Regions from separate parts of the Homo sapiens genome. Here region 1 is linked to region 2. Evidence: fine-mapped expression QTL. A gene starts in region 2. The other region holds a variant in brackets. All regions are shown on one strand. Distances are from middle to middle.

The links. PIP is the estimated chance that this variant, and not a neighbour inherited with it, causes the effect.
Region 1: its variant is fine-mapped to the expression of FUOM in whole blood (INTERVAL, PIP above 0.99). The same link has a PIP of 0.9 or more in esophagus mucosa, lung, sun-exposed skin, tibial artery, unexposed skin and visceral fat.

Annotation. Positions count from the first base shown.
Region 1 is chr10:133,385,557-133,393,876 of GRCh38, forward strand. It overlaps PAOX (polyamine oxidase), which reads left to right. Exons shown (of 7, transcript NM_152911.4): 5 at 3,400-3,512; 6 at 4,034-4,191; 7 at 5,756-6,138. The coding sequence ends at 5,899. Among named protein-coding and RNA genes, the nearest start is that of MTG1, 4.4 kb to the right of the region's middle. RefSeq lists silencers at 2,955-3,112, 3,369-3,663, 4,253-4,332 and an enhancer at 3,073-3,202. The variant C/T (reference allele first, on the strand shown) is at 3,817.
Region 2 is chr10:133,354,345-133,362,664 of GRCh38, forward strand. It overlaps FUOM (fucose mutarotase), which reads right to left and starts at 3,675. Exons shown (of 6, transcript NM_001098483.3): 1 at 3,579-3,675; 2 at 2,843-2,911; 3 at 2,599-2,669; 4 at 2,296-2,394; 5 at 1,394-1,467; 6 at 814-1,092. The coding sequence starts at 3,663. The coding sequence ends at 1,026. ECHS1 (enoyl-CoA hydratase, short chain 1) reads right to left here. Exons shown (of 8, transcript NM_004092.4): 8 at 8,141-8,320. RefSeq lists enhancers at 1,692-2,426, 2,904-3,003 and silencers at 3,154-3,773, 3,824-3,903, 4,936-5,098.

The sequences.
Region 1 (8,320 bases), 31 kb after region 2:
ATCTGTAAATTTACCCCATGATAAATAAAATATTTTTTTGTTTTTGAGATGGAGTCTCGCTCTGTCCCCCAGACTGGAGTGCAGTGGTGCAATCTTGGCTCACTGCAAGCCCCACCTCCTGGGTTCACGCCATTCTCCTGCCTCAGCCTCCTGAGTAGCTGGAACTACAGGCACCCACCACCACGCCCGGCTAATTGTTTGTATTTTTAGTAGAGACAGGGTTTCACCGTGTTAGCCAGGATGGTCTCGATCTCCTGACCTCGTGATCCGCCCGCCTCGGCCTCCCAAAGTGCTGGGATTACAGGCATGAGCCACCGCACCCAGTCACCACATGATAAATTAAATTATTATTTGAGATGATAGTAACAAACCTATTCTATGTTAGCATAAATAACATTTTTAAATGAATATTTTCTTAAAATTTAATGAAGGGTGGCAGCAGTTTTGTCTTTTCTGCAAAACTTTTTTTTTTTTTTTTTGAGACAAGGTCTCTCTGTCACCCAGGCTGGAATGCATGGAATGCAGTGGCGTGATCTCAGCTCACTGCAACCTCTGCCTCTTGGGTTCAAGCGATTTTCCTGCCTCAGCCTCCCGAGTAGCTGGGATTATAGGTGTGTGCCACCATGCCCAGCTAATTTTTGTAGTTTTAGTAGAGACAGGGTTTTGCCATGTTGGCCAGGCTGGTCTCGAACTCCTGGCCTCAAGTGATCCGCCCACCTTGGCCTCCCAAAGTGCTGGGATTACAGGTGTGAGCCACCACGCCCGGCCTTTTCTGCAAAACTCTTCAGTGTTACACTTAATAGAAGACATCTGGGTTCTCAGGCCTCCTCTGCATTCATTCTGTGGTGATGTTTTATTTTGGTTGAAACATAGGAAGAAAATGTGGATCTACATGGATATGTGGTTGGAAGAAGGAGTGATATTTGTTTATTTATGAGATGGAGTTTTGCTTTTGTCGCCCAGGCTGGAGTGTAATAGCTCGATCTCGGTTCACTGCAACCTCCGCCTCCCGGGTTCAAGCAATTCTCCTGCCTCAGCCTCCTGAGTAGCTGGGATTACAGGTGCCCACCACCACACCCGGCTAATTTAGTATTTTTAGCAGAGATGGGGTTTCTCCATGTTGGTCAGGCTGGTCTCGAACTCCTGACCTCAAGTGATCTGCCCACCTTGGCCTCCCAAAGTATTGGGATTACAGGCGTGAGCTACTGCGCCCGGCCAAAGGAGTGATATTTAAATAGCTTTTGAAATGATTGTGGGTATTCTTTGATACTACCTCAAAAGTCAAGATGTAGTAGTAATTCCTTAAAGGTTGGCCAAATATGAAATTGGAGAGCACACCAGTGAATTTTTTGTCTTCTGTGACACTGAAATCTATTTGTCTGTCTTGCACTTTAAATGGATCTTTTATCTATCCATGGCTTTAGTCATTGGAAAATACTAGGCTGGGCTTGGTGGCTCATGCCGGTAATTCCAGCACTTTGGGAGGCCAAGGTGTGCAGATGGCTTGAACTCAGGAGTTCGAGACCAGCCTGGGCAACATAGCAAGACCCAGTCTCTACCAAAAATACAAAAAGCTAGCCAGATGTGGTGGTGCGTGCCTGTGGTCCCAGCTACTGGGAGGCTGAGGTGGGAGGATTGCTTGAGCCCAGGAGGCGGAGGTTGCAGTGAGCTGTGATCAAGCCACTGAACTCCAGCCTGGGCAACAGAGGGAGGCCATGTCTTAAAAAAATAAAATATATATATATTGGTTCATGTAGTCTTCCAAATGTTGATACATTTCATTATACAATATAAAAAATCAAATTTATTAACATACCACTGATCTCAGAAAAGTCTTTCAGGATTGGGAAGCTGTTATGCTGTTGGTGGCAGAAACAAGCTTTTCTAAAATTGCAGTTTTTGCTTGAGAGCTTAAACTTTGTCATTGTCTATAAATACTATTTGTTAGTTGTTTTCCTGTGATAGAGACACTTTGCTCATTTTCAAGAAAATGTCACCAAATACCACACCATGATTTGTCTGACTGGTGCTCTCCTGAGTTCTGAGCCTGTCTGTGAAAGACGCACCAGCCCCGCCTGGAATAGCGTGTGCTAGGTGAGTCCTCCACGGCCACCGTGCACCACGCGCAGCAGGAGTGTTCTATGCGGATCCCGCTTCTCCACGCAGATTATTATTATTTTTTGAGATGGAGTCTTACTCTGTCGCCCAGGCTGGAGAGCAGTGGCGCGATCTTGGCTCACCGCAACCTCCACCTCCCGGGTTCATGCCATTCTCCTGCCTCAACCTGCCGAGTAGCTGGGACTACAGGTGCCCGCCACCACGCCTGGCTAATTTTTGTATTTTTATTAGACAGGGCTTTACCATATTGACCAGGCTGGTCTCGAACTCCTGACCTCGTGATCCGCCCGCCTTGGCCTCCCAAAGTGCTGGGATTACAGGCCTGAGCCACTGTGCCTGGCCCTCCACGCAGATTATTAAAAAGACATGAACTCGAGGATCAAGATTTAATAAAATTAGTAACTTTTACTGCCTTTGATCAAGGACATTCTCAAGTGAAAGCAGCATTTTTATTTATTTTTTAATATATATATTTTAATTTTTATATTCAGAGGCAGGGATATACGTGCAGGTTTGTTATGTAGCTAACCGTGTATCATGGGGGCTTGTTGTACAGATTAGTTCTATCACCCAGGAATTAAACCTAGTACCCATTAGTTATTTTTCCTGCTCCTCTCCCTCCTCCCATCCTCCACTCTCCCATAGGCCCCAGTGTGTGTTCTCATCATTTAGCTCCCACTTGAAAGGGAAAACATGTGCTGTCTGCTTTTCTGTTCCTGTGTTAGTTTGCTAAGGATAATGGCCTCCAGCTCCATCCATGTCCCTGCAAAGGACATGATCTCGTTCTTTGACGGCTGCAAAAAGCAGCATTTTGTAACCCTCATGTGCAGTGGTGGGAACGCCTGTAGGCGCATGTGGATCCTGTTGCTGCCTGATTCTGCTAAGGGACGGTTTACCTGCCCTGGCTCTTGCTCAGGTGCAAATGTCGGCGTGGTGGAAACAGCAAATGCTGTCTTAGCGTCTGAAGATGGCTGTGACCTTGAGGGTCCCTGGCAGGGCCTTCGGACCCCCAGGACTTTGCCGCCCACACTCTGCGAACTGCTGCCTGAGGGACGCTCTGTGGGGTGGCTCTTTGTGCCTCTGGGGCCCCTGCTCCATCAGTGGTTCCTTGCTGAGAAACGCGGGCGGAGAGCTGGGCTGGACACTGTCATCCCGGGGCTCTCTTTCTCCATGCAGGTCTGGTCATCCCAGGGCTCTCTTTCTCCATGCAGGTCTGGTCATCCCAGGGCTCTCTTTCTCCATGCAGGTCTGGTCATCCCAGGGCTCTCTTTCTCCATGCAGGTCTGTCCACGTTCTCTGTGGGTTCATTGCCGGACTTGAGTCTGAGTTCATGGAGACTCTGTCGGATGAAGAAGTACTTCTGTGTCTCACCCAAGTGCTCCGGAGAGTGACAGGTAGGTACTCACCACACACGCTGGTTCCTGCCTCTGCTCGTTACTGGTTGATCTCTAAACAGAAACTAGACTTTGCAGAACAGAGAAAAACTAAATTTGGCTGACTCTGTACATCTCCAGGGACCATCCTTCCTCATGTTAGTGGGGTCAGTAACAGTTCTTACCTCCGAGGAACTGAAATGACTTTGCAAACACTTCCTACTTCTGCCACCAAAATAAATGCCGTTGTCCTTGATCAGATTTTTACAGAGGAGGAACCCAAGGCTCGGAAACAGTAGCTGCTGCTGTCACAGCTCCCGGGTCC[C/T]GGCCCGCTGCTGTCGGGTCAGAGGCCCCCGGGTCCCAGCCCACTGCTCTCGGGTCAGAGGCGGCAGGAAGAGCCTCTCCTGACACACTCTGCTGCTCACTTTTCTTCCTGCATAGCATCTTTCACGTTAAACTGCTCAATCTTTAAAAATGACAAAAACAGTTGCAGACCTGTGGGTGAGAGTTCTCGGTTAACATGCAGTGTCTCTGTGGCTCAGGAAACCCACGGCTCCCCGCGCCCAAGAGCGTCCTGCGGTCTCGCTGGCACAGCGCCCCGTACACTAGGGGGTCCTACAGCTACGTGGCCGTGGGCAGTACTGGGGGCGACCTGGACCTGCTGGCTCAGCCCCTCCCTGCAGACGGCGCCGGCGCCCAGGTATGTGGCGTGCCCCAGTCGGGGGGCGTGGGTCCCGCTGCAGAGGCCCCCGCCGAGTCTGGGCGCTGCAGGAGCACCAGCCAGTGGCGGGTGGGCTGGGATCCCAGACTCGGAAGCCATTTTCTTTTTGAAACTAAGAATAATTTTTAAATGTACTGTTTTTGTGAGAATTATACACACACAGCTTAAAAAGTCAGAGAATTCTGCAGTGCTAACAAAAGAAAATAAAACCAAAATGGCAGGTGGAGCCCCTTTTGCCCTTCTCAGACGGTGCTCCCAGCTGATTCTCATCGCTAAGTTTACTGCATCTCTAAAAACATGTTTCTGCTACCACGTTTTGAGATACATTTCCTGTGCAAAATGTCAAACATACTAAAGTAGGGAGAACCTTTCAGTGCCCACCAGGCTTCCCCTAAGCCAAGCTTCTCCCCGCCCACCCCCGCCCTTTTTTATTAAGCATGACTCACACAGGACATTGTCTCACCTCAGGATATTTTGGTGCCTGTTTCTAAAAGATAAAGACATCCTTGTAAAATACTTAACTATGATGCTGAGGGCAGTGGCTCACACCTGTAATCCTAGTGCTTTGGGAGGCCTAGGCAGGAGGTTTGCTGAGGCCAAGAGTTCGAGACCAGCCTGGGCAACATAGTGAGAGTCGGTCTCCACACACACACACACACACACACACACACACACACAAGTAGCCAGGCATGGTAGCATGCACCTGTAGTCCCAGCTGCTCAGGCTTGGGCCCAGGAAGTTGAGGCTGGAGTAAGCTATGACTGCACCACTGGACTCCAGCCTGGGTGTCAGAGCAAGACTCTGTCTCAGAAAACATAAAAATAAAACCATATAACTATGATACCATTTACCCACTTAAAAATTAATAATCATTCCTCAATATGATCCAATATTTAGTCACTGTTCAGTTTTCCAATCAGCTCATGGTCTCTCTTCAGTGAACCTGCTTGGAAATGTTGCTTCTTGAGTTTTCAGTTTCAGGTGTTACTAATTGACTTCTCATTACATCAGATAAGGCTGTAGCTTTCTTCCTCTGCCCACCCGACTCCCAGATCCCTCCCCCACCCTCCCCATATGTGATCCAGGAGTTGAGGCCAGATCACTATTCAGTGTTTACACCCCTTGTTTTCTCTAAAAGCTGTTCACACCTGAGCTGCGGGGTGCAGTGGCTTCCTTTCCCACCCATTGGTGGATGCGTGTGAGCCGTCTTCCCACCCGTTGGTGGATGCGTGTGAGCCGTTTTCCCGCCCGTTGGTGGATGCGTGTGAGCCGTTTTCCCGCCCGTTGGTGGATGCGTGTGAGCCGTTTTCCTGGCTGTTGATGGATACATGTGAGCTGTTTTCCTGCCCGTTGGTGGATGTGTGTGAGCTGTTTTCCTGGCTATTGGTGGGTACACGTGAGCCCTTTTCTCGTCCGTTGGTGGAGGTGTGTGAGCTGTTTTCCTGCTTCTTGGTGGATGCTTGTGAGCCATTTTCTGTGTTTCCTTGCCCAGACCCTGCTGTCTGAATTGCATCCCCATTCTAACCCTGGCTCTTCTTTGCAGCTCCAGATCCTGTTTGCGGGGGAAGCCACACATCGCACGTTTTACTCCACGACGCACGGGGCTCTGCTGTCGGGATGGAGGGAGGCCGACCGCCTCCTCAGTCTGTGGGCCCCGCAGGTGCAGCAGCCCAGGCCCAGGCTCTAGCTGGGCCCAGCCTACTCTGTTCCACCCGTGTCGGGGGTAGGCTGGGACCCTCATTTCTTCTGACAGATTTCAGTCTGGCTTGAAATTTGGGGATGTTAATGAGGGTCCTCTGGTTTTTGGTAACCAGGGCCACCTTCTCAGTTCTTGTGTCTGTTATTGGAGTCTGGCCAGGGTTGACTTGAGCTGAGACACCAGATGCTCACGGAGATGCTGGACACATAAAGCAAGTTACAGCCACAGCTCCCAGAGCCATCTTTCCTGCCTTGAGGCTGTCCTGTCCTTCCTGCCTTGGGGCTCCAGCATCTGCTGCTGTTGTCTTTGTCTTGCTCCGGGCCCAGGTTGCACAGGGCCCTGTGTCTCCAATCCCCACAACCACACATGGCCCCACACTCTGGGTTCCCTGAACTCTGGGTCCTGTAGTTGCTTCTCGTGCCCCTGCATTCTCGTGGCTGCTGCCTGGGATGACAGCATAGCTGACAACCCTCCTCTTGCTCATCAACTGATGCTGCATCAGGCGCCCACTTCACAGGTTCGCAGGGCACTGGGGAGATGAGGGGTGCCCTGCCCTGCCCTGAGGCCGGGGGTTTTCTGGAGGAAGTGAATACATAATAAGGCCTGAAAAGAGAAACGGTGCCCAGCCCATGGGAGCCAGGGAGTGTGTGGGGCGTGGGCAGTGCTGGGGTGAGTGTGCTGGGTGCTGGGGGGTGTTGGGGTGGGGGCAGTGCTGGGGTGCTGGGGGGTGTTGGGGTGTGGGTAGTGTTGGGTGCTGGGGGGTGTTGGGGTGAGTGTGCTGGGTGCCGGGGGATGTTGGGGTGTGGGCAGTGCTGGGGTACCACGTGGTATTGGGGTGAATGTGCTGGGAGTCCAGGCCCCTCTCCGGCCCCTCCACCCCAGCCTGGATCTGCAGGGCTCCTCTCTTCTCACCCTCTGGTCTCTGTTCAAATTGCCCCTCCTAGGATGTTCCCTGACCCCACCCTCCCGAGCCCCAGCCTCCCTCTGTAGCCAGCAGCCCCACCTGCATTTGCTGTGTCACCAGACTGTTCTCTCTGGGGACACCTGCCCATCAGACGCCTGGGAGAGAAATTCAGATTCCACAGGGTTTTATTGTGGTTTTGTGCTCCTAGGACCATGAGGGAATGCAGCTTCCTTAAAGTACAAAAATCTTTATCATTGACATTTAGGGTTTCATCAATTCTGTATCCCAGGGAGAAAGGCAGCAAGACCCAGGCTGCCCCCTCTGGGTGTGAGGGACCGGCTTGGTGAGGAGGGGGCTTGGGGGCATTGACCTAGCAGGAGGCCCTGACTGCCCCCACTCAGCCCAGAAACCACCTGGGAGGCTTCTGTCTTCCACGGAGGGGCCACTCTCTCATGCCCAAAAATATTTACAGCTAGGCGTTAGGGTATTAGGTGGTTTAAGAACATCAGAACCATGGCAATATTTTTGTACTTAGAATTTGAGCATGTTTGGTATTTTCAGTAGCTTGTTTAAAAAATTCCAGTAGAGGCTGGGTGCCATGGCTCATGCCTGTAATTCCAGCACTTTGGGAGGCTGAGGTGGGCAGATCACCTGAGGTCAGAGTTCGAGACTAGCCTGGCCAACATGGTGAAACCCCATCTCTACTAAAAATACAAAAAAAGTAGCCGGGCGTGGTGGTGCGCACCTGTAGTCCCAGCTACTCAGGAGGCTAAGGCAGGAGAACTGCTTGAACCCCGGGAGGCGGAGGTTGCAGTGAGCCAAGATCACGCCACTGCACTCCAGCCTGGCGACAGAGCGAGACTCCGTCTCAAAAATAAAAATTCCGGTAGAGTAATACTCTTGTAACGCAGTGTGCAATTGAGCAGTTGCTGACTGCTGATTTAGAGTTGAAATCCGACTATATTTATGTCTAGTCTTGGACAGTGGAGAATATTTCAGCCTCATTAATTAATCGGTTTAATTTAGCAGAACTGCAGTCAGTATTTGGAAACAGTTTGTTATATTAAACCCTGAAGTACTTGAGGCTGCGCGCGGTGGCTCATGCCTGTAATCCCAGCATTTTGGGAGGCCGAGACAGGTAGATCACTTGAGGTCAGGAGTTGGAGACCAGCCTGGCCAACATGGTGGAACTCCATCTCTACTAAAAATACAAAATCAGCCGGCGTGGTGGCAGGCGCCAGTAATCCCAGCTACTCCGGAGGCTGAGGTGGGAGAATCCCTTGAACTCAGGAGTTGGAGGTTGCAATGAGCGAGATCGTGCCACTGCACTCTTGGGCAACAGAGCGGAGACTCCGTCTCAAACAAAACAAAACAAACAAAAACCCTGAAGTACTTAAAAAGAAAATGAAGAGATTACATTTATAAGGTAAATTTAAAGTATTTGAGAGATTTTAACCAAATTGTAAAAAGAGATTGCTAAATTTTTACACTTATACTCAGGATAT
Region 2 (8,320 bases):
CCCCAGATTTGGAGCCACATCTCAGCCGGGGTGGGCTTGCCTGCACCCCCAAGGTTCTCCTGCGGTCTGGAGTGGGGGTCTGGAACCCTGGGACTTGCCCCCTCGAGCCCCGGGGACACCAGCCCCAGGCCCTGGGGGAAGCCCCTGTCATCCCCACTCCTGCCCTTGGTCCCTCAAACTCCAGCCCTGCCCCATCTTCTTCCTGTACCTGTCACTGCAGCAAGTTCTGGGGAGCAAGACGAGGGTCCGGACAGTGGCTGGTGGTTATTCTTCCCCATCCTTGGGGACCAGTCCAAGCATCCCATGGGCAAGCCTCCCAGGCACCCCCTTTCAGGAACCCCCTGCATCCCACCTCTGCCTGGCACTGGACTCCAAATGACCTCGTGTCCTTTACCTCCCCTGCCTGCCAGGGCAAGTGAGGCTTTCAGCGGGAGGCCACCTATGCCACAGGCATAGGGCATGGCCCACACCGAGGCCTCTCCAGCCGACAGTTCCTCCCGAAGCGTCCAGGCCAGCCCCTGCCACCTGCCCTCCTGCGGGTGGAAGGAATGGACCCCGGTGAAGAACCCCCTTGGTGTCCACAGCCCAGGGGCTATGGCAGAAGTCCCCACCCCTCTCAAGGCCTCCAGGGCAGCCACTGCCCCCACTCCAGCCCTTGGTGTCCCCAGGGCACCAGGCACCCCGCCCAGTCCCCAGGGCCCCAGGCCTGATTTCCCACTCAAGGTTCGTCAAGGGTACGTGGGGGCCACTCTGGAGCCAGCAGCCTCCCTTGAGCTCAGCACCAAACAAGCCTGCGTGAGAACAGAGCTGGAATTGGACTCTTGAGACTGAACGTTTTTCCATCATTTTCACAAATCAGGGATACTCGTCCCAATTGGCAGGGCCCACCCCAAGACTGCCGGCCCCTAGAGCCCTGGCCAGGGCCCAGGTCTGGGAGCTGCCACTGGGAGGCCTGTTGTGAGTGGTGGTACTGGAGCTCAGGGTGCCCCCAGTTCCTCTTCCGGCCCAGGTGGTCTTCACCAGGCCTACAGCAGGGGGTTGAGGGCAAGCACCCCCTTCCTGAGGATGAGGTTTCCGTAGAGGGCCGTCTCCCTGCAGAGGAGCCAAGCCCAGCACTGAGCTGGGCTGCAGGGCCAGGGTGCCGAGACCCTGCTTCAGCATCTGGGGGACAGAGCAGACCCTGTCCACCTTCACCCACTTGATGCTCAGGCAAATGGGGGCCCTGCCCCCCCGAAATTCCTCCCTGGTCTCTCCACTCTGTGGGACGTCTAGCCTCAGCCAGGCAGAAGCTGAGAAGAGGGTAGGGGCAGCTCCTGAGGCCCCCCGGTGGGGATGGGGGCAGCTCCTGAGGCCCCAGTGGGGATGGGGCAGGTCTGAGCCAGCTGGAACTCACCCCGTTGCCACAACAGCAAAAGCCTTCTTAGCCCGTTCATAAAACTCAAACCTCTCTATCTTTGCCAGGGCTCTCTGGAAGACAAAATGGCAGGGTTGGAGGGAACCCTGCCAAGAAACCCTCATGGGCCAGCCCTGGACTCCCCAGGGCCCAAAGCAGGGAGGGCACCAGGAAGTGGGGTTCCATTTCTTGGGCTCTCCCCCGGCAAGGGCCCCACGGTCACTCAGCCTCTGGCTCCCAAGGCCTAGGACAGGGGGTCCCAGGACATGGTGGACGAGGAACCTGCCATGCTTGGGTCTCTGCCTGACCTGGGGCCACCCAGACAGCTCAGTAGACTGTCGAGCCCCTGCCAGCTGTCCTGGGGGGAGTCCCCTGCCCAGGACAAGAGCCCCTGGCCCCCCTTATGGAGGCCCTGCTCAAGACCTGCCAGTGGGTTGCCCAGGAAAATGGGCCTGTCCCCTTGCAGGGCAAGGTGTGGAGAGGGCTGAGTGAGACACAGCACCCAGCTAAGCCTCTGACCAACCATAGCCAGGATGGGGCGAGAGACCTGGGACCAGGGGGCACCCCTCCAGGGGAGATTGAGGAGGTGGAGGCCAGGCATCCTGAGTCCCCCAGGCTCCACTCACAGGCTGTGGTGGGTGACAACCCACCTGGCAGGTCAGGATCCTGGGCGGGGCAGGGCAGGTGGAAAGCTCGGGGGCAGAGGAAGAGGGGCCACACTGCCCAGGTGCACCTCTTCCACCTGGCTGGTGAAGGAGTGCCAGTGGTCCGGGGTTCTCAGGGTGATGGGTGGGAGACCACTTGAGGACAGAGCTTGGGACCCTCTGTCTTTGGCTCCTCCTGAGCCTCCAGGAGACAGAGGGTCCCTGGCCTTTTCCCCACAACTGGGGCTGCAGGCTTACCACACAGCCGGCCCTGCGTAGGATGGACTCGTACTCCGTCCACACTGGGGTCTGCAGGCCCCTCTCCTTGTCGCTGGGCACCAGCTCCATGACTGCAGCCTAGAGGGAGGGGTCAGCTCTGGGGCCCTGGGCACTGCCAGCCTTCCTGGTCAGGTGACCATTCGGGACTCCCCTGGTGAGGGTCAGGGCCCCTTTGGGGACACATGGCTTCCCCCCACTCCAAGGCAGGTGGGCCCTATGAAGCCCGCAAAAGGGGAAACTGAGGCACGGAGCAGCAGGGTGCAGGGGCGACTCAGCCCTCACCGGACTCTCCACATAGGTGTCCAGGGGCAGCAGCTTCAGCACGGCCTCCAGGAGCTGCGGGATGCCCAGGCCTGGAGGGCAGAGGAGGCAGCACTCAGTCTCCAGCCCGCCCGCCCGCCTGCCTGTCTGCACCCTTCACACTGCAAGCATGGACTTGGGGCCACGGCAGGCCACAGAGGAGCCTCAGAGCCAGGAGCACCGCTCACCCGCCCGCCCTGCCCTGGGGGACCTGGGGCTCGCTCACCGTCTGCACGGATCTCCATGGGCCCACACTGGCAGATGGAGGAGGCCGGGAAGTTCAAGTCCGCAAGAACTAAACAGCCGGGAGGACAGCCCGTGTCGGCACCTATCCCTGCCCTCGGGGTCGGCGCCGCCCGTCCTCCCACCCAGTCATGGCGGCAGATCGTGGGTCACAAGAGGTCTCAGGTCAGCCAGTTGGGCGCCCCCACCGCCGACCGGCCGCAGTCAGATCCGCAGGGCTGGAAGCCACGCGGGGAGGTGGGGAGGGCAAGGTCCCTGCCTGGGAGGCAGAGAGGCGTCAACAGCTGCCCGCGAGGCTGTCGGGTGCTGACCAGGCCAGGGGGCCGACCCGGACCCGGCCGCCTCCCCAGGGGCCAGAGGACGCGCGGCTGCCCGCGATGCCCGGACCAGGCCCCCGGCCACCCAACCCCTGCCCCGGGACCCCAGGCCCCAGGAGAAGAAAAAGCGCCGAACCCTCGGGGGCAGCCCAGACGCGAGGGCTCTCGGGCCGTCTGGGGAGGGACTCCGGGAGAAGCTCGGGCCGGCTCCGCCCAGAGCCCCACGAGGTCTCAGTTCCCTAAAGAATGCGGGGGAGGGGGCTTCCTGCCCGGAAGCCAGGGAGGCCCGAGCAACGCCCACACCCCAGGACGCGGCCCTTCCCGGCCCGGGGGTCCCCGTGCAAGCCTCGCCCTCCTGCCTGTCCCGGGGTGCTCCCCGAGGCCCCGGCCCGCTGCGCTCACCGATCTCGTCCCCGTGCCCCATCCGCGCCAGCGCGTAGAGCAGCTCGGGGGACAGCAGTGCGGGGACACCCTTCAGCGCCACCATGGCCCGGCAGACGGGGCGGGCGGGGCCTAGGGGCGGGGCTTGGGGGCCGGGGCGGGGCCTTACGGGGAGGGCGGGGCTTGGGGGCAGAGGCGGGGGCCTTACGGGGAGGGCGGGGCTTAGGGGCAGAGGCGGGGCTTTACGGGGAGGGCGGGGCTTTATTGGAGGGCGGGGCTTTAGGGTCCCGGGCTTGGGGCTTGGGGACGGGCCGGGCCTAGGGTTCGGCGGGCTGGGGTCCGCTTGCGGCTCAAGGAAGGGCGGGGAGCCCCAGGAACTGGGGACGTGCGGGCTGAGTCGTGGCGTGGGGGCAACACCCAGCCAGCCCACGGGCTCCTCGCCAGGTCCGAGACTCGGGTGCCCTTGCGCTGTGGCCGGGGGCTCCCCAGTGTCCCTACCCGAGCCTCCCACCCCGAGCTCCCTCAGGCCGAAGGGGTTCAACCGCCGCGGCCTCCCCTCATGAGGGTCTCTGCCCTCTGACCACTTCGTGCTGCCCTTAGGCCTGGCAGAATGCCCGGAGCGCACCGGGTCCCTGGGGTCACCATGGTGGGTAGCTGGACCCAGGCCTTCAGCCCACGCTCCTGAGGGACCGGGAGCAAGGGACACGGGAGCCAGGACTTCGGACCCCCTTGGGGGGAGTCCAGGAGGGCAGCCAGGCCCAGCTTCCAGGCTCAGCTGCGAAGTGCCAGGACACCTAAGGGTCCTCCATCATCCCCCGGTGTCAGCGGCCTGCAACCCCCTGCCCAGGATGGCGGCATCCTGACCTTTGGCTGAGCTCAGGCTGGCCAGGCCCTCCCTCCGCGGAACCACCTTCTTCCACATGATTCCCAGCTGGACACCAGCTGTGGGGCTAGCACTGCGGCCCTGGCCCTCAGCCCTGAGGTGACACAAATGCTCTGAGGCCTGGCGGCTCCTAAAAAGTTCTGAAAATCAATCTGTATGTGAAAAATGACAAAGCCGCGTCAGAAAACCAGGAGGAAACAGACGTCTCCATGTTGAACTGCTTGGCCCTAGGAGCCTGTCCCCATGGGAAGTGGCCTGGGCTGCGTCGGAAAAGCCTGGTGGGGCCACCCAGGCTGGCACCCAGCAGCACCTGAACAGCTGGCCCTGGGCCGGCCACTCGGGCAGAGAGAAGACCGGGGCTGCCCAGGGCCTGCCAATGAGGGGTGGCTTTGCACCGAGGCCACCGGGTTTCAGAGCTGTACCTGGGCAGTTTCTACTCCAACTTGTAAGTGGAGAGTCACCGTTTACCCAAATATACAAGGGCAAGAGGATTTTATAGAGATGGGCAAGAAAGTTTTCAGCTTCAAAACCAAATCAGGCCGGGCGCGGTGGCTCACACCTGTGATCCCAGCACTTTGGGAGGCCGAGGCGGGCGGATCACTTGAGGTCAGGGGTTGGAGACCAGCCTGGCCAACATGGTGAAACCCCGTCTCTTCAAAATATACAAAAATTAGCCAGGCATGGTGACTGGTGCCTGTAATCCCAGCTACTTGGGAGGCTGAGGCACGAGAATTGCTTGAACCCGGGAAGCGGAGGGTGCAGTGAGCCGAGATCACTCCACTGCTCTCCAGCCTGGGTGACAGAAAGTGACTCCGTCTCAAAAAAAAAAACAAAACCAACAAAGAAAAAACACCTAATCAAACCCCAAACAATAATGGGGCCAGAGGTCAACTAGCTCAGGAGTGAGTGGAAGCCTCACTCTGAGTCTGGGGTTCCCCTGCCCCGGACAGTGGCACCCCTCCCTCCAGGCTCCCTGGGGCCAGCATGAAGACAAAGTCCATTCCCCAGCCTAAGGGTTGGGTGTCTGTCCCTGCCAAGCTCTGGAACCAGATAACTAGACGCAGCCCTCTGAGATGCGGCTTCCATGCTGGGCCCTTTCTTGGCTTCCAGCCAAGTGTGGCTGACACAGGTATGAACGTGAGGCTGCAGCCAGCCCTACGGATCTCTGAGGTTCCATTGCTTGAAATCAGATTATGGAGGCTGACCCCAGTGCACATGAAAAATTAAACGGAGTGGATTTTCTCAATGTTCAGGCTTCCTCCCTTGCATACTTGAACATTTGGTGCCTATCTATCTCTGCATATTTACTCCAGGCTCCAGGGCCAGTGGTTCATGACCCACGCAGACTCCACGTGCTCCACTCCAGTAAGTGAGCAGGTTCCAGATTCCCTACCCCAAGGGAAGAGCCTGTTATGCCCTGTTGGACCTGAATCAAACTCCCTTTGTACCTGTTTCAGTATTTGTCAAACAGTCCCAGATCCCAAGGCTTATCTGAGGCTTATCTGAAAAGAACATCTCCCGCCTGTTTTAAGGCCAACTGCATGAGAACTCCCACCTGCCCTGGCAGAAGCGAGATAAACCTGCTCCACCCTGAAGCCGGCTCTGAACTAGTGGACTCCAATCACAGCACACAGGAGGACAGACGGGGTGGGTGGGAGTGCAGAGCCAATGCCTCCGAGGCAAGCGGTCGCAGAGCATGCGTGTGTCCCCTTTGCGTGTACATGTAACCGGACACACGGGCGTGGCACCTGCAGCGTTCAGGGAACCAGAGCTCGGCAAAGATCACTGTTCTTCTTTCTTGATGCAGGTGAACCTGTCCTTGGTATTCAGCCCAAGTCCTCAGCGGTGGGGGCTCACACACTCTGCCCACCCAACCCAAGGCCATGACCACAATCTAGACCACCTACGCACACTGAGCTGCGGGGCCAAGTGGAGGAGACACCGGCAAACGCTCTCTGGCGTCTGCACTGAGCTGGGGGCAGGTGGGCTTCCCTGGGGGAAATACCTAGAACCAAGGGCATGATGACATGTCCATAGTATGAAACGTCAGGGCCACTAAAAAGAATGTTATAGGACTGTCATTTAGTGAGAAAATCAAATGGTGAAACATGCCACAACAGGCACAAACCTTCTGGACAGTATGTGCCTTAGCTTGGGCTGCTGTGATGCAGTGGCATGGTCTGGGTGGCTGATAAACACTGACTTTCCACAGTTCTGGAGGCCAAGGCTCCAGGCAGGTTCGGTGTGTGATGAGGCCCACCCTGGTTTACAGACAGCACCTTCCCACAGAGCACTCACATTGTGGGAGGGGTGAAAGAGTGCCCTCAGGGCTCTCCTAAGGGCAGTAATCCCACTGGAGGAGCTCCGCCCCCTCATAGGGCACTAATCCCACTGGAGGAGCTCCGCCCTCTCATAGGGCACTAATCCCACTCAAAGAGCTCCATCTTCTCATAGGGCAGTAATCCCACTGGAGGAGCTCCGCCCTCTCATAGGGCACTAATCTCACTGGAAGAGCTCCATCCTCTCATAGGGCACTAATCCCACTGGAAGAGCTCTGCCTTCTCTTAGGGCATTAATCCCACTGAAGGAGCTCCGCCCTCTCATAGGGCACTAATCCCACTCAAAGAGCTCCGCCCTCTCACAGGGCACTAATCCCAAAGAGCTCTGCCCCCTCATAGGGCACTAATCCCACTTGAAGAGCTCTGCCCTCATAGGGCACTAATCCCACTGGAGGAGCTCCGCCCCCTCATAGGGCACTAATCCCACTGGAGGAGCTCCACCCTCTCTCTCCTAGGACACTAAACCCACTCGAAGAGCTCTGCCCTTGTGACTAGTCATTGCCCAAAGTCCCCCCTCCTAATGCAGTCACGGTAGGGGTTAGGATTTCAACCCAGGGATTTGGGGTGGGGCTGAGTGAAATGAGCCTGACCCAAAGGGATAAATGGAGGTCCCTCCATAGAGACAGGAAGTAGAAGCGTGGGTGCCAGGAGCTGGAGGGAAGCAGAAAAGGGGTTGTTGTTTAACGGGGACAGTTTCCGTTTGGGAAAATGAAAGCTTTCTTGGATAGTCATGGCTGCACAACGAGAACGTACTTAATGCCGCTGAAATGTGCATTTGAAATGGTTCAGACCAGCCTGGGCAACACGGGGAAACCCCGTCTCTACAAAAGGTAAATTTAAACAGTCAGCTGGGTGTGGGAGTGCGCCCCTGTGGTCCCAGCTACTTGGGAGGGGGGGAGGATCACTTGAGCCCAGGAGATTCAAGCTGCAGTGAGCTGTGACTGAGCCACGCACTCCAGCCCGTCTCTAAAACACAGTGGTTAAGATGATCAAGTTGACGTCGTGTGTTCCCACAGTAGAGAAGAATGCAGTAAACTGAACAGAGAGCTCCTTATGACAGAAGTAGGAAGAAAATAGGGTGGGCTCTCGTGAGGAAAGGGCTCGACGTGAGTGGGCGTGGAAGAAAACCATAGACCATGCCTGTGCCCGTGTGCAGGGGTGTGTGGGTGCGTGCACAGAACTCTAGGAAGTCACAAGCCCAGCTGTTCACAGTGGCTACCCTGGAAGTATGATGTGAGGCAACTGACTATACAAACTTGTTTTGTTTGAATGTTGTTCCTTACAGTGAAAAAACAAAAAAGTTTAAAAAAACAACTAACATGACAGAATGCTCATTGCAGACATGACTACAAGGCGTGGTGTAATCTGAATCGCTATCACTTTAATCAGCATCTGTATGAAGGCAGCAGACAGCGTTTCCCTCAGAGCAGCCCCATTCTTCAGCGGCAGGGACACAAGGACCCGCAGGCCCCGCTTTCCGTCCGAGCACAGCATGCCCAGAGGGACCAGCGGGGGCTCCTCAGCAGAATCTTAGATTTAGA